Regions from separate parts of the Homo sapiens genome. Here all the other regions are linked to region 2. The links come from fine-mapping of genetic effects on gene expression. A gene starts in region 2. Each other region holds a variant in brackets. All regions are shown on one strand. Distances are from middle to middle. Region 1 overlaps GNB5 (G protein subunit beta 5). Region 2 holds the start of DMXL2 (Dmx like 2). Region 3 overlaps DMXL2 (Dmx like 2). Region 4 overlaps DMXL2 (Dmx like 2).

Region 1 (5,644 bases), 490 kb before region 2:
GAGCTTCGTCTGGGCTAGTGGTTCTCAAACTTTTTGGTCTTAGGATCTCTGTACACTTTTTTTTTTTTTTTTTTTTTACGTGGAGTTTTGCTCTTGTTGCCCAGGCTGGAGTGCAGTGGCGCGATCTCGGGCTCACTTCAACCTCCGCCTCCTGGGTTCAAGCGATTCTCCTGCCTCAGCCTCCCGAGTAGCTGGGATTACAAGGCATGCACCACCACGCCCGGCTAATTTTGTATTTTTAGTAGAGACCAGGTTTCTCCATGTTGGTCACACTGGTCTCGAACTCCCAACCTCAGGTGATCCTCCCACCTTGGCCTCCCAAAGTGCTGGGATTACAGGTGTAAGCCACCGTGCCCAGCCTACACCCTTAAAAGTTATTGAGGACCCCAAATAACTTGCTCATTGTGGATTGTATCTATCCATATTTATTGTATTAGAAATTAAGACTGAGAAAAAGTTATAAAACACAAGAATACAGATGCACACGTTCCATTAGCCATCAAGGTGATCTTTCTCCCATGCCAGTAGTCTCTGGAAAATTCCTGAGAGGATGAAAATAAAAAAATCACCCATACAAAAAAAAAAAGTGTCAATATTATTATGAAAATAGTTTTGACCGTGAGGACCCCCTGAAAGGGTCTCAGGGACCCTCGGGGGCCCTGGATCTTGCTTTGAGAACAGCTGATCTGGGCTAATGAGCCCTTTTCCAGCCCCTCTGTGTGAGACCTCCCAGAAACCACTAAGGGCCTTGGAAGAGCTTGGCAAAGAAAGAGGTGACAGGATGATTGAGGAGAGCCACCCTAGGGAAAGCCTTCAGAGGAGGCTTTGGGACAGCCCCGGTCGGTGGAGGAAGTCCCAGAGAGGCAGTCGGAAGGGCTAGGGACCAGCTGAGGCCTGTGACCTGAAAATCCTTTCAAAAGAGGACGCCTGGAAGCCTGGGGAAGGCACAGTGGGTGGGGTAGAAGACTGGGGCTGAGGCCCAGGCCATTCCCAAGCCTGGAAGAGCTGATTGAGTGGGGATTTGTAGATCTTCATTTCCCAAACTTGCCTGCTGAGAAGAATCGTCCCACCCATGGCAGGTTCCTGCACTGCGCCTTCAGGGCCCTGCCCTGAGATCTGGACTGGGCGGGCCTGAGGTGGGCCAGGAAATCTGAGCCGGAGGCCCACTGGGGAGGCCGCGAGTGAATCTTGTCTCTGTGGATCCTTTGTAAGGATTGCCATGCTAAACCACTTGCCCTCTCATCCGTGACCGGAGAGAATTGGGTCACTCTTCCAGACATACCACAGACTCCTGCTTCTAGACAGCACTTGGCTGGAGCCAGGCTGGCCTTCAGGGTTGGTCAGTCTCCACAGGGGACTCTGGCCTCCCGTGGGCTGCCACAGGGCCAACCCCAGTGAAAGAAATGAAATGACTGAATATGTTCATGTCATTAGAAAAAGGATGCAGCAGGGGGTGGGGAGGAGTTGGTTAATGGAATCAAATTTGCAGCAAGATAGGAGTCTAGTGTTTGGCGGCACTGTAGGGTGACTATCGCTAACAATAATTTACTGTGTATTTTCAAGTAGCTAGAAGAGAGAATTTTGAATGTTCCTGTCAACCTAAATAACAAAGACAGGCTCGCTAAAGATATTTAATCAAAAGTAGGGCATTGCAACAGGAATATGTGTGCTGTAGTAAACTGTGTGCATATTCCAGGAGGTAAAGAAAAACAAAGGTGACTGGGCGCGGTGGCTCACGCCTGTAATCCCAGCACTTTGGGAGGCCGAGGCGGGTGGATCACGAGGTCAGGAGATCGAGACCATCCTGGCTAACACGGTGAAACCCTGTCTGTACTAAAAAAAAATATATATATATATTAGCTGGGCGTGGTGGCAGGTGCCTGTAGTCCCAGCTGCTCGGGAGGCTGGGGCAGGAGAATGGCATGAACCCAGGAGGTAGAGCTTGCAGTGAGCCGAGATGGCACCACTGCACTCCAGCCTGGGCGACAGAGCGAGACTCTGACTCAAAAAAACAAAGAAAAAAAAAAAGAAAAACAAAGGTTTTTAAAGGAAAAAATGAGGAGGATTACATAATGGTTTTGAAATAATTATCCTTGGCTACAAATATCAATAACAAAGGTCACACCAGTCCGAGGTTGGACAGGCAGTTGCTAGGCAGATGTCTTTGCAGAAGTAATTTTTGTGTGAGGTTGCAGCAGCCTATGTGCAAGGTTGTAATTTTTGCAGAATCTTTTGTGATCATTTTTGGTATTAGGCATACAAGCATGAGAATCCCCTCTTCATGGCCTCCCCAGCTCTATTTGTCATGGTTTGTTTTTTTAAAACACTAGTGACTCTATTTGAATTCTAACAACTTTCACATTCCCAACACAAATGATAGACATTTAAGGGATTAATATGCTAATTACCCTGATCATTACACATTGTATACATGTATCAAAATAACACACTGTACCCCATAAATACATACAATTATGTGTCAATTAAAGATCATTATTTTTAAAAATAGGACCAGAAAAAAAGATGCAGACCCTCTAGTAAGGAGATGGGATCAGGAGTGATTCCATGGTTAATTTAACCCACATAAACAACTAATCGTAAGTATGGTATGAGCGTTTATGTAAAGACTGTGACAACAGGAAATGTCTGTCTTTGAACCCAAGGTTATCTAACCAGCACACCAATGGTGAAAGATTAACTTTGTCAGAAACCAGGAACCATGAAGCAGAGGTCACTGTTTCCAACCTGTGTGTTTTCCACGGTAATTGGCAGCCTCCCCAAGGGAAATTAAAACATATGTCCACACAGAAATTTGAATGCAAATGTTCATAGCAGCATTACTCATAATAGCCCAAAGCTGAAACAGCCCCAATGTTCCACAGTGGATGAATCGATGAACAAAATATGGCGCATCCACAGAATGGAATACAAAGAAAGAAAGCGTGGACACATGCTGCAACATGGATGAACCTTGAAAATATTGTGCCAGGGGAAAGAAACCAGAGACAAAGAGCCACATGTTGTAGGATTCCATGTATATGAAAGGTCCTA[A/G]TAAGCAAACTCATAAAGACAAAAAGCAGATTGGTGGTCACTTAGGGCTAGGGTGAGGAGTGACGGTTAGTGGGCACTGAGTTTCTCCGGGGGGAACTGAATTAGATGGTGGTGATTGCACAATTCTGTGAATAGACTAAAAACCACTGGACTGTAAGAGGGTGAATTTTTTGGTATATGAATTACATCTCAATAAAGCTGTTACTTAAAACGTGGAAAAAATAATAAGCAGTCACTAGCTATTCTCAATAAAACAGAAACCACATAGGTAAGACCAATATTGTCACATTTTGGTTTTGGCTGATAATGGGGCAAGTGAGCATAGTCACCGTTGCCAGAGGATTTACCATTTACAAATAAAAGTTTCTGTGGAGTGACAACCTTTTACTGTGTGCCAGGTACTGTGCTAAGCACTTTGTATATACCGATTCATGTAATCCTTGTGACAGCCCCGTGATGCCCCATTTTTAGATGGGGAGATTGAGGTTAGGAGAGTTGAATAACTTGCCCATAGCTGCACAGCTTCCAAGTTGCAGAGACAGGATTTTCACCGAGTCTTATTACAAACTGCCTCATATTGTGTGGACTGGAAATTCTATGTTGAGGTTAATTTATTCATTTGTTGTTTAGTTCTTTTCATCATTGTTGAGTTACCAATGGCAGTTCCAGAGGATTTATCATTTACCCCAAAGCTACTGCAAATCTAAGAGAAAACAATGTTCTTGCTGCTAAAGTTTAATGTACAAAAAGGTAAAATCATGACTGTCTTGCAAATAAAACATGAACATGTATCCAAGCTTTTAACTCACTGATTAATAAGGAAACCAGTAAGACGTCAAAACCAGTTCAAATGGGAATTTGATGTACAGAAATTTATATTCTAACAACACTTATTTAGTTCACTGTAAGAAATCATTTGCTTTGGCAGATTAGGCACTCAGCAGAAGCACCAGCCAGCTCAGCCTTTGGAGGGAGAATTCCATGTTGTTGGACCCATACATATCCTCTGTCCCTGCTGCCAAGAGCTCTTTGTTCATCGGCCCGTTGAGCAGACACCACAGCAGCTGCATAGAGAGGCTGGCTGACAGCCACAGAGCATGTAATTCTGTCCATCTGATTCAGGGTCTTCTCTGCAGTGGATGCCCTTTGGTGGGCATTCAGGTGAGATGCAGATATCTTCAGTCTGCCCATTCGGAGGGATTCAGCCACATATCTCTTTCCAAGATTTTCTTGTCACCAATCTTCCAGTCCTGTTCTTTTTAAGGCCCTGACCATCCAGCTAAACCATCAGCGACTGTCCATGAATCAATTTAGGTCTGTATTCTGGCCATCTCTCACTCCAGACATAGTGGACAGCCTTGAGTTTCTGCTCACTGGAAGGATTCTCCTTCACCACTGCCCTTCACAGTCACCCCTGAGTGAGTGTGAGTGAATACTGCAGCTGTTCTCTTTCATGTGGTACCAGCACATCATACAGACCCATCTATAATCCAGGCTGGAGGTTTTTCTCCCTCAGTCAACTGGACATAGGCAGCATCCCAAGAAGCCATAGTTGTAGAATGAGGGAGAGGAGGCAAAGCAACAGGAGTTGATGTTGGAAGAGTCTGAGCCGCCTGCTCATACAATTTACTTATACCTTCTGAACCTGCCTGGGCTGTTTCTAATACACCATTTCCATTTGATGATAGGTGGCTGCTGTATACATCCAATTTTATGGCTACGTAGGTCAGATGACATCCAGTTCATGATGGGAGCTCAAGCTTCATGGTCAGGCATTCTGCCTCTATCAAGGCCTAGTAGCAAGGCAGAACCTGCTTCTCAGAAGGAGAGTAGTTATCTTCAGAAGAGGTTCTAGATTTACTTTAGAATTCTAGAGGTCTGTACTCTCTCCTGTCAGTGCTTGCCAGAGGCTCCATACAGCATCCCTGTTGGACAAAGTCCCACTGGATCTGTTGGATCACAAGACCCAAGTGGTAGGGCAGCTTTACTGCAGCCTGAACCTTCTGCAGAGTCTTCTCTTATTCTGCTCCTCAATCCACCAGCCTGTCAATTGGGTTGAAATAGCACAAACACAGTATATGTTGCCTTCAAAGTCCAAAATGGCTTACTGTTCCAGGCTGTGTCCCCCAAAATTCATATGTTGAAATCCTAACCCCCAGTGTGATGGTATTCAGAGATGGGGCCTTTGGGAGGTATTAGATCACAAAGGTGGAGCCCTCACGAATGAGATTATTGTCCTTATAAAAGAGACCCCGGAAAGCTACTCCACACCTACTGCAATGTGAGGACACAGCAAGAAGCCTGTTGTCTATGAACCAGGAAGCAGGTCCTTACAAGACACAGAACCTGCCAGGGCCTCAACCTTGGACTTTTTAGCCAACAAAACTGTGAGAAATAAATGCCTTTATTTATAAGTCACCCAGTCTATGGCATTCTGCTATAGCCGCCTGGACAGACTAAGACAGCTGCCAAGTGCCGTGCCTCTTTTGTAGTGATGCAAGATGCAGCAACTCATCTTTCACCCTGGGAGGGCTATTTCAACATGCTCCAGACCCCTGAACCCCCAGAAATACCACTGCTAGTATCCATTCTG
Region 2 (5,644 bases):
TGTATGTTTAGTGGAGACGGGGTTTCTCCATGTTGGTCAGGCTGGTCTCAAACTCCCGACCTCAGGTGATCTGCCTGCCTCGGCCTCCCAAAGCTCTGGGATTACAGGCGTGAACCACTGCGCCTGGCTGCCCCTTGACTCTTGAAGATAAAGTCCTTGAGTTCCGTGGTGTAGTGGACAACCTCCAAAATGGCTGCTCACGACTCTCCCTTCCTGGCACTCACTTTCTTGGGAAATAGTCTCCCACACTAAGTTATAGCTGGCCTGTGCACCCAATAAAATATGGTGGAAATGATGGCGTGTGACTTCTAAGGCTAGTTTATAAAAGACATTGCAGTTTCTACCTTGGTCTCTCTCTTGGATCACTTGCTGCTGGAGCAGTCAGCCGCCGTGTCTTGAGGACACTCACACAGCACTATGGAGAGGAACACATAGGAACTGAGGCCTCCATCTATCTATTAGGCTCAACTTGCTAGCCATGAGAGCCTGCCATCTTGGAAGCAGGGCCTTTAACTTCAGTCAAGACTTCAGATGACTGTATCCCTGGCTATTTCTTTTTTAGATAGCTTTATTGAAAGTATAATTTAATTACCATACAATTCACTAATTTCAAGTATACAATTCAATGATTTCTAGTAATTTTACAGAACTGCCCAACCATGACCACAATCTAATTTTAGAATGTTTATCTCATGCCAAAAAGAAACCTCATATCCATTAGCAGTCACTCTCAGTTCCACCTTCAGCCCCAGGCAACCACTAACCTATTTTCTGTGACTGTAGATTTGTCTTTTCAGAAAATTTCATACAAATGATTTCATACAAACGAATTATGTGGTCTTTTGTGTCCAGCTTCTTTTATTTAGCATGTAGCTGACATTTTGATTGCCATCTCATGAAAGACTCTGAACCAGAACTTTCCTGCTAAGCTACTACTAAATTATTGATTCACAGAAACTGTGAGGTAATGAATCTCTACTGTTATTTTTGGCTGATAAATTTTGGGGTAATTTATTGCACAGTAATTGATAACTAGTACACATCGGTAGGTGATACTGCTGGGAAACTAAGTCCCACATTTAATGGCACACATTCAATGGGCCATTAAACCCAACCCCAAAGGTACTATTAAGAGTTGTGTTGGGATCTCAAATCAAAGCAAAAAGAAAAAAAAAAGAGTTGTGGACATGATAAATTATATCTTACAATTCGATTAGCATATTTTGTTAATGATACAAAACTGCTACTTTTTCTAATTTTTAAAAGAAAGCCCTTTCCAAAATTAGAAGAAAGAATTTCCAATTTGTTTTTAGGTCCATGAAAAAATTTGCATGAACAAGGAAGAGATGAAATTGTGGACAGTCAAAAGTGTGGTCTAGCTGCCCTGGTGGGCTACCAAGGAAACTTGCCATATTAGTCTGGAGTGAGTTTTGACTGATCAGATTGGACAATAAAAGGCTCAGCTGTAATTCCAGGAGACTTAATTAGTCATTTGCAACCTTAAGATACAGCTATCAAGAAGCCATTTAAAGGATTCATGAGGGAAGAGAACAGGTGGATACAGGCTTCAGATTTTGAGTTTGATACCGAGAGGAAGAAAGAGGCTCACAACTTCACAACTGTGTGAATGGGCCAAAACTTCATGGAATGCTGTAAAACAAGAGCCAAATGTGAAATGGTTTAAATAATGTGAATTAGTAACACTCTTGGAAACCTGAGTACAATTTGTTGTTTGATGATAGTTTTGACTTGGTTTCTAATGCAGTGAAGGTCAAAGATTAAGAGACTCATCTAGAATCTAGTAGTAACAAAAAGGAACCCTTGGATATGGCGCGGGGGAAGGGAGGAAGGGGGGGGGAGGGAAGGGGAGGGAGGGGGGAGAGAGAGAAAGAGAGAGAATGCCGCAGGTCATTAGGTATTATTTTTCATTCCTCCTGCAACTTTCTACTGAAAAGATTACCAACGACTGACAGATCTTTGCCTCCAATCTTCCCCACCCTTCCCTTTATGCTTCAAAATGCTACAAAGTCATCTTCCCAAAGCAGCTCTGATTATATAAATTTTTGCTCAGAAACATCTGATATACCCCCACTGCATGCAGAGTGAAATCTGGGCTTCTTGGAGCATTCAAGACTCTCCATAATATGTTTTGGTAGGCCAAGAGTTAGACCACTTGGATACCTTGATCTCTTGCTAAGTATTATTTACTTTCCCTACCCTATAAATCATCTGCCTCAAACATTAATCTTTGTACCTTCAACACCCCCTCTATTTTCTGTACTGTATTTGCAGCATTTCTTGTCTATCTCAGCCTGTCAAAATTAAACTCAGCGTTTATGTCAGGTTATGTCTCCATAATGCCTTATCCACGCCCTTAGTCAACATTCTTCTTCCTCTTCTGTGGTGCATAAAGACTTTTATATCTCAATCACACCACCTTTGGCGTTCTGCCTGGTTTTACAGATAGTTATGTCTTGGTGTCCCCTACTTCCTTACCCTGTGATTTAAGCATAGTATGGGTTAGAACATTTGCCATGAATTGGCCTGTGGCAGGGAGCTGATGATCCTTGTTATCAACCATTCAAAGTTTAGCAGATAGTTTGGAAAATCAGGCGATTCTGCTAATTCATGAAATTACTCATGAAAAAAAGTCGAAAGGAGTCACCCGTCTCTAAGGCGGCTTTTTGCTGTCTAGAATAACCGTGACAAAAGGTGGGAGCAAAATAATTAGCTTTCAGGGGAGTATGGCTTCTCTAAATAGTTGCAAGATGCCTACATTGTTTATGTAAAATAAAATATCTTATGTACTGCACTTTCGAAAAGACTGAAGATATCTAAGATATCTCCAGGTGGAAATTCCCGGTGACGGGTGTCCTTCTGAGGTCAACGGCACTGACCATTGCACACTGTATTCTGGAATACGTTCAACACAGCAAAACCGGCTCGTGGCGCGTCCCCGGCGTCCGACTGCTGCGTGGCCCCGAGCGACCTGCACCCCACTCGCCCCCGCCCCCACCTCCGCCCCAGTCCGCAGCGGCTACAGCCCGGGAGGCTCCAAGGGAACTCCCGCACGTCTGCGCGCGCAATCACGGGACGGCGGGTCGGCGTGGCGCGCGCAATTGCCCTGGAAACCACGGCGCGCGCACGCGCAAACGCGGGTGATGGGGGGAAGAAAGACTGAGCTGAGAGCTTTGCCGCGGGGGGAGGGCTCTACCTCGCTCCCCCGCGGTGGGCGCGCGCGCTGGCCCGCTCCCTTGCTGCACGCTCCCGGCTCGCGCGTTCCCCCCGGTGCCCTCCCCCGCCTCACAAGCACCCTTGCCCTCCCGCATTTGTGCGCCGGTGCAGCAGGCAGTGGGAACATCCGGGCATTTCCGCAGCTGAGCGGCGACCCGGGCGGCGGCGGCGGTCGAGGAGCTCCCATGGCAGGGACGAGGCGGAGGGAAGGCGAAAGGGGGGCGAGGAGTTAAGCCAGAGCCTCCGCGGGGCGGGTTTCCGAGGGAGGCACAGAGGGAAACGGCTCTCGCAGCCCGAGGAGGGTCAGGCGCGGAGCTTGTCGCACCTCCCGCGCATTCTGTCCAGCCCGGGCTCCGGAGATGCATCTGCATCAGGTCCTCACCGGAGCTGTCAACCCTGGAGACAACTGCTACTCCGTGGGCAGCGTCGGGGATGTCCCCTTCACGGTGAGCGGCGGCCGGGAGCCCTAGGGGAAGATACCAGGGGCCAGACGCGGGGGCAGGGACCTCCTGTCCAGGGCGCACGCCTCCTCAGGAGGCTGTGAGATGTTGGTGGGCCCCACCCGTGGCCCCTTTGCAGCCTTGGGGTTTAGTTCCCCCTGGGACCCGTGGGACCGTGGGTCCTGCGTCTGGTGTAGGAAATCACCCGTTAGGGGAAAGGCTTAGGAATCCACCGCACTCTCCACCCCAAGCAAACGGGCCTGAGGTGACTGGACTAGAAGGCTCCTCCTAGGGCGGCCCTTCGGTCTGCGGTGGAGGAAAGTGGTGGTGCGGCTGAAACCCCAGAGCGTCCGTTTCGCAGCTGCTCTCGGCGTGGAGGCGAAGAGACTTGGTGTTGGTCTCGGAGCGTGGAGGTGAAGAGACTTGGTGTTGGTCTCGGAGCGTGGAGGCGATGCTGCGCCTTGGCTCCCCCTGCCCGCTGTGCTAGGGCAGCGAGGAGCTGCTGGAGTCTGTGGCTTTAAGCCTGACTCTGTATCTCCTGATAATGCAGGATCTTAATTCCAACAAAAAGATAGAAAAATTCATCCTCCGCGCCCGAAAGATTTAGAATGGAAAGGTTAGAGTCACAGTGGCTTGGAGAGCTGTCTCATTTATCAGGAGGTCGTAGTTTGGTAATCCTCCTAGATAATATTTTAATCTGTAAGGTAGCCTTTTTTTTAATATAGTAAGGCAATGTGAAAAATTTACAACAGTGCTTGTTTGAGAAAAGTGTATGTATACATAACGTTTTAGAATCTCCTTAAAAGCTAGATGAAGTAGACATGTTTCTCAAGGAGATTGGACTCATCAGTCCTTTTTGAGAGTGGAAATGTTTAAACCAAGCCTTGGAGCTTCGTTTACTCATAGATAGACTCCCATAAATTGAGTTCTTTTTTAAAGAATGAAATTTATACATGGTCTTCCTTATAAGGAACTGTAGGCAGCCAGACCTTTATTAAATATATTTTGTAAACTGTTCTTCTTGATAAAACTGGAAATTCCGTAATGGTATGCTTTTTAGACAAGGAAAACCCTTTGATGTCTGCTTTCCAACAGTGTTTTTAAAACTGCGGAAAATAAAGCTTCAGCAAAACTGCAGAATCATTATGTAGCAGTGCATTCTGGAACAGAATTTATTTTTTGACGTTTTGTGATACATTAACCCCAGAAGATTGCTTTTTAGCCATTTTAATTTTTTAGTGTAATCCACTTGGCCTAGCTCCAGTTTAGAACGACCCCTTTTGTCATCTGTGTTTTATGTACATGTGACTTAAAATATTCATATAGAGCTGAGCTTTGTCTTCAAGTGTGTGGAGAATCTTGGTTTTTGGGGATAGAGAGAAGAAATTTCCCTGTTCCCCAGTAGTGCAGATAGGAAGTTCCTCAGGGTTAGAAGAGTGGGCCTCTTTCATCAAGAAACAAAGCTGGAATCTTTGGTTATATTTTCCTGCTAGAATGGTGGTGGTAGTTTTCTGCTTCCATCTAAAGTGGAGTGCTGTCTCACGGCAGGTCTGGTATGTAGAACTAAATAAACGGGTTCAGATGCAGCCTGGAAAAGCCTGTGTAAGAACTGTTAGTGCTGTGCAGGTGTGGTTATGCTGTAGGCCACTTGTGACCAGATGCTTAGAGTCATTTTCAAATCTTCTTGCACTTCCCTAATTCAGCGTTTCACGAAGTCTAGTTGACTCTGCACTGTCTACCAGATTTACTCCTTTTCATATCCTTAACCACCACCTTATTTTACAATCTTATTGGTATTAATATAAAAGCTTTCAAAACTGTCATGTCCGATAACTTCTTCATCCTCCACACCGCTGCTAGGATAATTTTCTTCAAGTGTCATTTTACTATATTACTCTTGGCTTAAGAATATGTAATTGTTTTTAATAGCTGTGTTAGGAAATGTAAACTTGTCAAGTATTCTCCATCTT
Region 3 (5,644 bases), 90 kb after region 2:
ATACACTACATGTTTAGAACCCAGAGGCCTTGTTTTCCTTTCTCAGGCACATACTGCAATTCTGCAAGTGCTTGCTTTGTTGCTTCTGATGGCAAAAATCTGAGACTCTATCAAGCTGTAGTGGATGCAAGGAAATTATTAGATGAATTGTCAGACCCAGAATCTTCAGTAAGTATTTAATAATCTTTATTAATTTATCTAAGGAGATAAAGAATTCTCTTTTGACTTTGTCTAGGACCTGTGTTTGTTAGTTGCTGTTTAGGGAGTAAGTATATGTTCTGGGCTGCATATGACATATATATGACACATTTATTTTTTCCTAAGCTGTGTTCCAAGGTACATGAATCAAAATTTTAGTGTACATACCACACATTAATACATTTTACATGAAAAGAAATAAAAAGGATTTTTTTCTAAAATATTATTTGTTTGTAACATATTTTACTCTCTAGTTTGGTTCTGTTAGTCTTACTTTGCTTAAAAGAAGTTTTAAGGCATCTTTACCAAGCTGTATGTTTAGGTTGGAAAATTGGAACTTTTTCAAGCTTGATTCACCATTTTAAAAAATTCTCTGGTTAGAATTTGTTATCAGTGGGTGGCAGCATCTCATTCTGATAGTTCTGTATCTGAGCTGGAAGTCATATATGTTAGTATCTAGAGTTGAACAGTAGATTTTCCATTTACCTATAAAAACAACTATTCTAATAAAAATGTTTCCAGTATTGAAAACCAATGACTATTTTTGAGCATCTACTATGTTCTCCTAGATGTAGAGGGAATACAAAATATAAGTTTCAGACCTACCTTTAAGGAGCTTTTAATTTAGCTGAAGAGAGAGCTTATTAATAAAAAGTTAAGTAGCAGTTTAAGACATAAGAAGAGGAGTCTAAGGGTGGTATGTAATTAATTGCCAAAAGGATGGCCCTAGAAGTGTTTCATTATTCAGAGGAGAGAGAGAGATCAGATTAAGGTAGGCATAGAATTCTTTATTAAGGACAATATTTGGGTTCATTCTTGATGAGTGGATAAGATTTAGAAAGATAAATTCTTTGTCTTTGCCTGAGTGAGAAAATTGCCTGGAAGTAAGTATAGATACAGGAAAGTACATGTGTAAAGCTTGTTCCAGAAACAGTGAGAAAACCATTTGGATTGGAGCTTAAGGTTTGACATAGAGAAAGTCTAGAAAAATAGAATCATAGAACTAGAATTGGAAGATATTTTAAAGGTCACCTGGTCTCACCAGCCATCTGATGCTTTATTCCCCTCTGCTTCATTCCTGCCAATTTGTCATCTGGCCATCGATGAGGGAGACTCAACTCTAAATGCAGCTCATTCTATCCTTGAATAGCTCACACAATCATATTGAAACGCTATTTGTTTTGTGTACATTCTACTTGCTAGTGCTAGTTCTACTTAGAATAAATCTAATATTTCTTGCGTATGAGAGTACCTCAAGATATTAAAAGACAGCTTTCTTGTAACCTGTGAACCTTACTACCTCAGGCCAAATCTGCTCCCCCTGTGCCTATCAAGTTTCTTTATCTGTTTTACATTTGACCCTGGTTACTCTTCTGAGCAGTTTTCAGTTTGTCTGTACTCTGAGCCTTGTAGGATGACTAAAACATAGCAATATTGTGACCTCTCTCATTAGATACATTTATGTTTTGACAGTCACTCCACATTCTTCGTATGTAATTGACTCATCATGAGCTGACTGTCAATATCCCGAAGTCTTTCCCCCTCCCTGCTCTCTGCTAAACCTTGTCTTCTCCATTCTGTATTTGTACATTTGGATTTGGGGTCCAAATGTAGACCTATTTTTCCTATTACATTTCATCTTGCTAAGCACAACTAAACAGTCCAATCTCTCAGTATCTTTTTGAATCTGGATTATGTTATTTAATGTATTTGTTTTTGCTTTATGACTATGTCACCAGCCTGTTTGAAGAGTGTTATACCTGCACCATCTGAGTCAGTTATTAATATGATAAATAGGCAGGTCTGAAGAAAGAGCCTAGCAGTATACATTTGAAATCTTTCTCCATTTTCATTTTTTGGAATGTTTTCCAGCTTGTTTCAAGGATTTCTGTGAGACAGCTTGCCATATACTTTGCTGAAATAAAATACAGTCTTTCTATCTTCTGCAGTCAACGAAGAAAGTCAAAGTTACATGAGGTG[A/T]TTTGTTTTAATATATGATAGGTGTAATGTGCACACCTTGACATCACTTGGTGACCAAAACATTGTACTAGGTAGACATTAAGCTCCTTGGTCTGCCCTGCAGAAGTATGTTCTTTTCCTTTTTGAAAATGGGAATTTTTGCCTGTTTTTAGTTTTTTGCTATTGATGTCATTCTCCATGATTTGGGGGATTTTGTGTTTTCTTATGGTTCTATTTGTTCTCCATTATACTCAGTGTTTTGTTTTTGGTGGTTCCTCAAGGTTTTATAATATGCATCTTTAACCTCTCATAGTCTACCTTCAAATAATAATATAGTACTCAAAATATAATGTAGCCAGGCACGGTGACTCACACCTGTAATCCAAGCACTTTGGGAATGAGATGGGAAGATTGCTTGACCCCATGAGTTCAAGACCAGCCTGGGCAACATAGTGAGACCCCCCCATCTCTAAATATATACAGTAAACAACTTTCAATAGTGTCCCCAATCTCCCTCTCCTGTGGTCTTCAGCATGCATGTCCTATGAATGTTTTGTTAGGTTTATACATAAGTATTTCATTTATTCTACTGACTGTAAAGGGTGCTGTCTTTTTAATGTTGGTGTCCATGTAGTTATGGCCAGAATATACAAATACAATTGAATATACAAATACAATTGAATTTTGTATGTTTATCTTATATCCTGTAACATTGCTGAATGCATATATTAGGTGTAGGAGTGTTTTTGGTAGATTTCTTGGACTTTTCCATGTAGATAATCATCTCATTATAAATGGGAACAATTTTATCTCTTCCTTTCTAATCTGTATGGCTTTTATTTTTCTTATTTTGTTGCAGTGACTAAAACTTCCAACTCCATGTTGAATAAGAAGTGAGATTGGATGTTCTTGCCTTCTTCCCATTTTTGGAGGAAAAGCATTCAGTCTTTGATCATTACATATAATGTTAGTTGCAGGTTTAAAAAATTTTTTTAAAATTTTTGTGGGTACATAGTAGATGTATATATTTGTGGGGTACATGAAATGTTTTGATATAGGCATGCAATTCTTAGTAATCAAATAATGGAAAATGGGGTATCTATCACCGCATACATTTATCCTTTGTGTTACAAATGATCTAATTACACTCTTCTAGTTATTTTTAAATGAGCAATTAAATTATTGACTATAGTCACCCTGTTGTGCTATCAAATACTAGGTCTTATTAATTCTAACTATTTTTTTGTACACATTAACCATCCCTACCTCCCTGCCAATCCCTTACGACCCCTCCTAGCCTCTGGTAATCACCCTTCTACTCTATCTCTATGGGTCCAGTTGTTTTGATTTTTAGCTCCCATAAATAAGTGAGGACATGCAACGCTTGTATTTCTGTGCCTGGCTTATTTCACTTAAAATAACGACCTCCAGTTCCATCCTTGTTGCTGCAAAATGACGGAATCTCATTTTTTTTTTTGGCCAAGTAGTACTCTGTCGTATGTAAGTACCACATTTTTTTTTTCTTCATCCATTCATCTGTTGATGGATACTTAGGTTGCCTCCAAATCTTGGTTGTTTTGAACAGAGCTGCAACAAACATGGGAGTGCAGATACCTCTTCAGTATACCAATTTTCGTTCTTTTGGGTATGTGCCCAGCAGTGGAATTGCTGGATTGTATGGTAGGTCTATTTTAGCTTTGTGAGCAACCTCCATACTGTTCTCTATCATGGTTGTACTAATTTACATTCCCACCAATAGCATATGAGGGTTCCCTTTTCTCCACATCTATGCCAACATTTGTTATTGCCTGTCTTTTGGATATAAGCCATTTTAACTGGGGTGAGATGATATCTTATTGTAGTTTTGATTTGCATTTCTCTGATGATCTGTGATATTGGGCACCTTTTCATATGTCTGTTTGCCATTTGTATGTCTTCTTTTAAGAAATATCTGTTCAAATGTTTTGCCCATTTTTTGATCAGATTACTAGATTTTTTCCTGTAGAGTTGTTTGAGCTTCTTATATATTCTGGTTATTAATCCCGTTTCAGATGAGTAGTTTGAAGATATTTTCTCTCATTCTGTGGGTTGTCTCTTCACCTTGCTGATTGTATCCTATGCTTTTTAACTTGATGTGATCCCATTTGTGCATTTTTGCTTTGGTTTCCTGTCCTTGTCATATATTACTCAGGAAATGTTTGCTGAGACCAATGTCCTGGAAAGTTTCCCCAATGTTATCTTGTAGTAGTTTCATAGTTTGAGGTCTTAGATTTAAATCTTTAATCCATTTTGATTTGATTTTTGTATGCAGTTAATGATAGGGGTCTGGTTTTATTCTTCTGCATATGGATATCCAGTTTTCCTGGCACCATTTATTGAAGAGACTGTCTTTTCTCCATTGTATATTCTTGGCACCTTTGTCAAAAATGAGTTCACTGTAGGTGTGTGGATTTGTGTCTGGGTTCTCTTTTCTGTTCCATTGTTCTCTGTGTGTGTTTTTATGCCAGTACCATGCTGTTTTGATTACTGTAACTCTGCAGTATTATTTGAAGTCAGATAATATGATTTTTCCAGTTTTGTTCTTTTTGCTTAGGATAGCTTTGGCTATTCTGGGTCTTTTGTGGTTCCATATGAATTTTAAATCTTTAAAAAATTTCTATAAAGAATGTCAGTGGTGTTTTTATAGGGATTGCATTGAATCTGTAGATTGCTTGGGGTAGTGTGGACATTTTAACAATATCAGTTCTTCCAATCCATGAGCATGGAATATCTTTCCATTTTTTTTGTCCTCTTCAATTTCTTTCATCAGTGTTTTACAGTTTTCATTATAGAGATCTTTCACTTCTTTCATGAATTCCTAGGTTCTTAATATTATGTATGGCTATTGTAAATGAGATTACTTTTTGTTTGCTTGTTTGTTTTTGAGACGGAGTCTCTGTCACCCAGGCTGGAGTGCAGTGGTGTGATCTCAGCTCACTGCAACCGCTGCCTCCCAGGTTCAAGTGATTCTTCTGCCTCAGCCTCCAGAGTAGCTGGGACTACAGGCATGTGCCACCATGCCCGGCTAATTTTTTTTTTTTTTTTTTAGTAGAGATGGGGTTTCATTGTGTTAGCCAGGATGGTCTCGATCTCCTGACCTCGTGATCTGCTCGCCTCAGCCTCCCAAAGTGCTGGGATTACAGGGGTGAGCCACTGTGCCCAGCTGAGATTACTTTTTCAAAATTTCTTTTTCAGATTTTTTGCTGTTGGCCTATAGAAATGCTACTGGTATTTGTATGTTGATTGATATCCTGGAACTTTACTGAATTTATCAATTCTAATGGTTTTTGGTGGAGTCTTTAGGTGTTTCCAGATGTAAGATCATGCTTTCTGCCAACAAGGATAATTTGACTTCTTCCTTTCCAATTTGGATGCCTTTTATATCTTTCTTTTGTCTGATTGCCTGAGCTGGCACTTTCCGTACTACGTTGAATAACAGTGGTGAAAG
Region 4 (5,524 bases), 110 kb after region 2:
CTTAAAACGTAGTTCAGGGCTGGGTGCGGTGAACCCTGTAATCCTAGCATTTTGGGAGGCCGAGGCAGGTGGATCACGTGAGGTCAGGAGTTCAAGACCAGCCTGGCCAACATGGTGAAACCCTGTCTCTACTAAAAATACAAAAATTAGCCAGGTGTGGTGGCGTGCACCTGTAGTCCCAGCTACTCGGGAGGCTAAGACAGGAGAATCACTTGAACTCGGGAGGCGCAGGTTGCAATGAGCCAAGACCATGCCATTGCATTTCAGCCTGGGCAGCAAGAGTGAAACTCCATCTCAAAAAAAAAAAAAAAAAAAAAAACAAGAGACTTTGTCAAAACCAGAGAAGCAAAGAAGGAGATTTTGAAAATATTATTAATGTGTTTGTTTCCATTAAAGCCAGAAAAATAAAACTATAATTAGTCCAATTTCTGGTATAAATAAATTTAAACTTAAAGTAATATGTGAGTTTTAATGCACCTACTTTTCAATTTTTTAGCATTTTTTAACTACTTTGATGTTCTGGAAAAATGTTAACTACAGCCAGGTGTGGTGGTTTATGCCTGTAATCCCAGTGCTTTGGGAGGCTGAGGTGGGAGGATTGCTTGAGGCCAAGAGTTTGAGACTAGCCTGAGCAACATAGTGAGACCCTGTCTCTACAAAAAAATTAAAAAATTTGTCAGGCATGGTTGCATGCACCTGTAATCCTAGTTACTTGGGAGGCTGAGATAGGAGGACCACTTGAGCCCAGGAGTTGGAGGCCAATAGAGCAAGACCCTGAAAAAAGAAAAGAAGAATGTTAACCATTAAAAAAAAATATACATCAAAACACATATGTGCAGTTTTGATGCACATTAATGGTATCAGTGTGGCTCATTAAGATACTCTTGGGTTCTATATTTAAATGTTTGATATTTTGCTCATTATGGATTGTTTACATTAATTTTGATTTTAAAATATTGCATTAAAATATTATTTTTCTTGATTATTGAATTTTTGAGCACTCTTTTAAATTTTGCACCCTGGGCGAATGCTTTACTTCATTCTAATTTCCAGTAGTATCTTCCACTATAAAATGAGTTCCTTGGTTGGAGGTGATGTTGAGTGAGATTCTGTAGAATTCTGGAATTCTGTAGTGTAGTGTTCAGAAAGTCTGTTAATTATAGTGCTGGCAGAGAGTTGTGGGCAGGGAAAGCAAATCCTTAGCTGGAATACATAACTATTCTTGTGAGGGGATCTCAACCTTGGCTGCACATTGGAAGCACCTCAATCTCTGTGGGTGGGACCTAAGCATCATTGATTGTTAAAGCTCTCCAGGTGATTCAGTGTGCAGCCAAGATTGAGAACCAGTGATCTACAGCAGTCCTTCTTAAACTTTAATATACGCATGAATCCTATGGAAGTCTCATTAAAATACAGATGTCTTAGTTTCAGGGAGTAAGTATGCATTCATAAAAAGCTTCCCATCACTGCTGGTCCATTGACTACACTTTGAGTAGCAAAGCTTTGTTGTGTGCTACAAAAATTTCACTGTTTTCACCTCACCAACTATAGGCCACAGTTGAGTCCAGATTTCAATGAACAAACCCAGCAGACTGTTAACACCATTTCTTTTTTTTTCCTTTTTGGACGGAGTCTCGCCCTGTCACCCAGGCTGGAGTGCAGTGGTGCAATCTCGGCTCACTGCAACCTCCGCCTCCCAGGTTCAGGTGATTTTCCTGCCTCAGCCTCCTGAATAGCTGAGATTACAGGCACCCTCCATCACTCCCCACTAATTTTTATATTTTTAGTAGAGACGGGGTTTCACCATGTTGGCCAGGCTGGTCTCTTAACTCCTAACCTCAGGAGATCCACCTGCCTTGGCCTGTCAAAGTGCTGGAATTACAGGTGTGAGCCACCACCCTGGCCCTGTTAACACCATTTCTAAATGTCTGAGCTAACACTTTAAATCATGAATCTTGGGTGAACATACCCATATCAGTAAATTCAGCCCTACCTAACTACATATTTTTTTCTTTTGATCTAATAACCCTAGAATCAATTTTCTTACATGCTCTCTGGAATCCTACTGATACAAATAAGAAAGTTTCTACAACTCCAGTGTATATGCTTGTACTTATATCTCCCTACCTTGTACTTATATCTCTAGGCGAAGCTAGCCTCTAACCCCTCTTATTGGCCTTTTTGAGGTAGTGAAAAGTGGTAAAGGTGGGTGCTGAGGAGAATGGGCATTTCTTTCTGAGGCAACCGTTTCAGATGAAGTTACTGAAAGGTTTTTATGCAAGAGAAAGCTGGTTGGAACATGGGTGAGGAGGACTGTTCTTTTTAGCAGAAAGTTTTGGGATTTTGGGGTTCCAAAGTTAGGCTTCATTTGTTTGTTCATACATCCTTATCCCAAGGCACAAGAGTCCCACTTCTTCTCAACCCTTGCCCTTACCTTCGGTCTGGCAGGGTTGTACTTTTAAATGGCATTGCACATCTGCAGACCACTCAGGCATTGGGCCAGATCTTCAGCCATGTCTGTCTTGGGCTTTAAGGTTGCAAAAATGAAGAAGATATGATACCTTGAAGTTATATGCTATTTTTGTAAACATTATAGTTTTCTCTCTGCTTAACTTTAGACTTAACATGAGAATGAGTATGGAAAGTTGAAGTATTTCTTTGAATGTATTACATTCCATTGCCAATCAGTGAATATTTAGAGGGGGCCTTAAATGTCCAAGATGCTGTATCATATTGACATTAGATTATAATTTGTTGGCCATTAACATTTTGTGTTTTTTATTTACAGAAACTTATTGGAGAAGTGTTTAATATTGTGAGCCAACAGTCTACTGCTCGACCTGGCTGCATTATTGAACTCGACGCAATAACCAACCAAGTAAAAACATGCTTGTGAATTGGTGATATTCGTATACTTTATCCCATGGTGTTTTATATGTATATGATATATGTCATTCTCAGAATAATTTTCTTGTTTGTTATTAAATGCAGACAACTTATGTTGATTCCCATAGTGAAAATCTACTAATGATTTAGGGATTATTTTTCTCCTTGGGAAACCAAGAACTGTATGTTCTC[A/G]TTTATAAGTGGGCGCTAAGCTATGAGTATGCAAAGGCATGCAGAGCAATATAATGGACTTTAGAGACTCAGAAGAGGGAGGGTGGAAATGGAACTAGAGATTTGAAAAACCACATGTTAGGTACAGTGTACACTACTTGGGTGATGGGTGCACTAAAATCTCAGAATTCACTACTAGTTCATCCATGTAACAAAAAAACCACTTGTACCCCAAAAGCTATTTAAGTAAAATTTTTTAAAAAAGGAATTATTCTTCTCCAGTTGAATTGTATTTGTAGCAAAGGAAATTTGATTCATTTAGAGAAACCATGACCTTGATCTTGAAATGCTGAGAGAAAATACAGTGCAGCTGCATAGAAGGGTCGGGTTGTGGTTTCTCATTTTATATTATTACTCTTTTCAACTCAATAGAGGGTAACCTCAGTTTCAGAGTGTTTGCCTTGTTAGGCCCCATGTTGGGTACTTTTGTGAGGTCCTTTAAAATGCAGATGAAAGTCAGATTCAAGTGGACATATACTTTTTAATCACAGGTCCTTTGTGTAGTATTCCTCCCCAGCTACTACCTAGGAAAGAAGGAGAACCCTTCTCCCTAGAGGGAGATGTAAAACCCATTTTAGCCCTCAGGATATTTGTTTCTTTAGGACTATGTTTATGGTCTAAGGGATAGAACTAACATTTATTCCAAATGTGAAAAGGATTAGTTTGGTAAAGAAGCTACCAATAGTTTTAAACAAGGAAATGAAGAAAGAGCCAACTATAGTTGAAAGCAAGTATAGAGTTACATCATAAATTTTCTTTAGTGTCTTGCACTTTCTATTGGGGAAAATGTACTCATTTCTGCTAATATAGATAAAATACATCATCTCTTGATAGCAGAACTGGGGCTGCCAGACCCATATTGCTAATACCTCCTGGGAAATGCTTAACTTTTTAATCCCCAGTGCCCCACCTTTCTTCAGATTCAGCCTGTGATTTCTTTTTTCTACTCAATAGGAATGTAGAAGAGTGGGTTGGCTTCCTTCCTATAGATAACTTAATTTTTAATGGATTGGATGTTAAATTCATCCCCTACTTTAGCCTCCTTTGCACTCATTACCATGGGATATTAACACAGTCTGCTCTCACAAAGCAGTTTTTTTACTTCATATTTGCTCAACACTTTTTCCCCTGCTCCTTGTGCCTATTTTTAACACAGGGGCTGGTAAACTGTAAGCAATAATGAATGACAAAGTTTAAAATTCTTTCTAGGTTTGTTCCCAATGTGTTGTATGATTTCTATATCTGTGAAGACATCACCCTTCTCTTTACTTTCATCTATTGTTTGTCCCTTGGGGAAATGACCTCCTAGACAATGAATGTGAAGAGATTTTTAATGTTTCTACCTAGAGAAACACAAAATACCCTATAACTTTCATAAAATTGTATGGCCCAACCTAATATTATAATCCTTTTATTTCTTTCTATTATGTAAAGAGGCAGGTTTTCCTTTATTCTATAAGATTATAGACTCCTCATCCAATGCCAAGATAATCATAGCTGCTTCCTTTTCTTGAAATCTCTGGGGGAGCCATCTGATTGATTGTCTTAATACACTTCCAAAATAAGCTTTTGTTTGGATCTAGCCTTTCCTTGAACTTCAGTTCCTGTTAAGGTTCTAAGTAGCCATTCGTGATAGTCTTAAAACATGGTCATGGAGCATAGCAGTTGACAGTGATGTTTCATCCATCCTTCGAGGGGTTCTAGTTACTTATGTGTAAGTTTAGTTCTCTAGAGATGTATCATCCTGCTGGCTGTTATAGGATCCCTCATAATTCCCACTAGACAGAGCTATTGGGATACTTCGAGGAGCTTTCTGGGTTTTGTTTTGTTTTTTGGTTCTCCAGTGGAATTGAAAAAATTACAAGTTGTGTAGTAGTCTAGTGTGTCTTACATAGTGCAGCCCTCCCTAGTCAGTTGTGAATCTGATGCTTTCAGGCTCAAAGTGGTGAAGGTTGCTTAACTGTTCTTTAAATTTGGAATTTGGGTTTTTTAGCATCTTTTTTTTTTTTTTTTTCCTGAGAAGCAAACCTGTTGATTTGTTTGTACTAGAGCTCTTCTATTCTGCTATTGGCTGTGACATTTTTGAAAGTAATTTTTCTCTGACCAGGATAGTTTTAATGATTCTCTTCTGTTGCTTTTTTCTTTCTAATTAGTAGTGGTAAAGAATAGAAATTGTTAGATATATTTCTTCTGCATTAGCATTGGGGAGGTGACAGATGGGAGATGGGAGACAGGGAATTTCAAAGATAAAACCTCTTCATTTTTTTTTGTATTTGTAGTGTGGCTCAAATACACAGTTGCTTCATGTGTTTCAAGAAGACTTCATTATAGGATATAAACCACATAAGGAAGATATGGAGAAAAAGGAAACAGAAATATTTTTTCAGCCATCACAAGGTACTTTAAA

Evidence for each region. PIP is the estimated chance that this variant, and not a neighbour inherited with it, causes the effect.
Region 1: its variant is fine-mapped to the expression of DMXL2 in whole blood (GTEx, PIP 0.97).
Region 3: its variant is fine-mapped to the expression of DMXL2 in whole blood (TOPMed, PIP above 0.99).
Region 4: its variant is fine-mapped to the expression of DMXL2 in whole blood (TOPMed, PIP above 0.99).

What each region holds. Positions count from the first base shown.
Region 1 is chr15:52,113,303-52,118,946 of GRCh38, reverse strand. GNB5 (G protein subunit beta 5) reads left to right here. Exons shown (of 13, transcript NM_016194.4): 13 at 1-3,847. Among named protein-coding and RNA genes, the nearest start is that of BCL2L10, 3.4 kb to the right of the region's middle. The variant A/G (reference allele first, on the strand shown) is at 3,052.
Region 2 is chr15:51,620,495-51,626,138 of GRCh38, reverse strand. DMXL2 (Dmx like 2) reads left to right here and starts at 3,368. Exons shown (of 44, transcript NM_001378457.1): 1 at 3,368-3,680. The coding sequence starts at 3,594. It overlaps LOC105370816 (a long non-coding RNA gene), which reads left to right. Exons shown (of 5, transcript XR_932236.3): 4 at 853-964; 5 at 1,314-1,455. RefSeq lists a silencer at 3,231-3,450 and an enhancer at 3,821-4,230.
Region 3 is chr15:51,530,187-51,535,830 of GRCh38, reverse strand. DMXL2 (Dmx like 2) reads left to right here. Exons shown (of 44, transcript NM_001378457.1): 13 at 47-168. Among named protein-coding and RNA genes, the nearest start is that of DMXL2, 90 kb to the left of the region's middle. The variant A/T (reference allele first, on the strand shown) is at 2,179.
Region 4 is chr15:51,514,432-51,519,955 of GRCh38, reverse strand. It overlaps DMXL2 (Dmx like 2), which reads left to right. Exons shown (of 44, transcript NM_001378457.1): 14 at 2,789-2,878; 15 at 5,397-5,514. Among named protein-coding and RNA genes, the nearest start is that of DMXL2, 110 kb to the left of the region's middle. The variant A/G (reference allele first, on the strand shown) is at 3,079.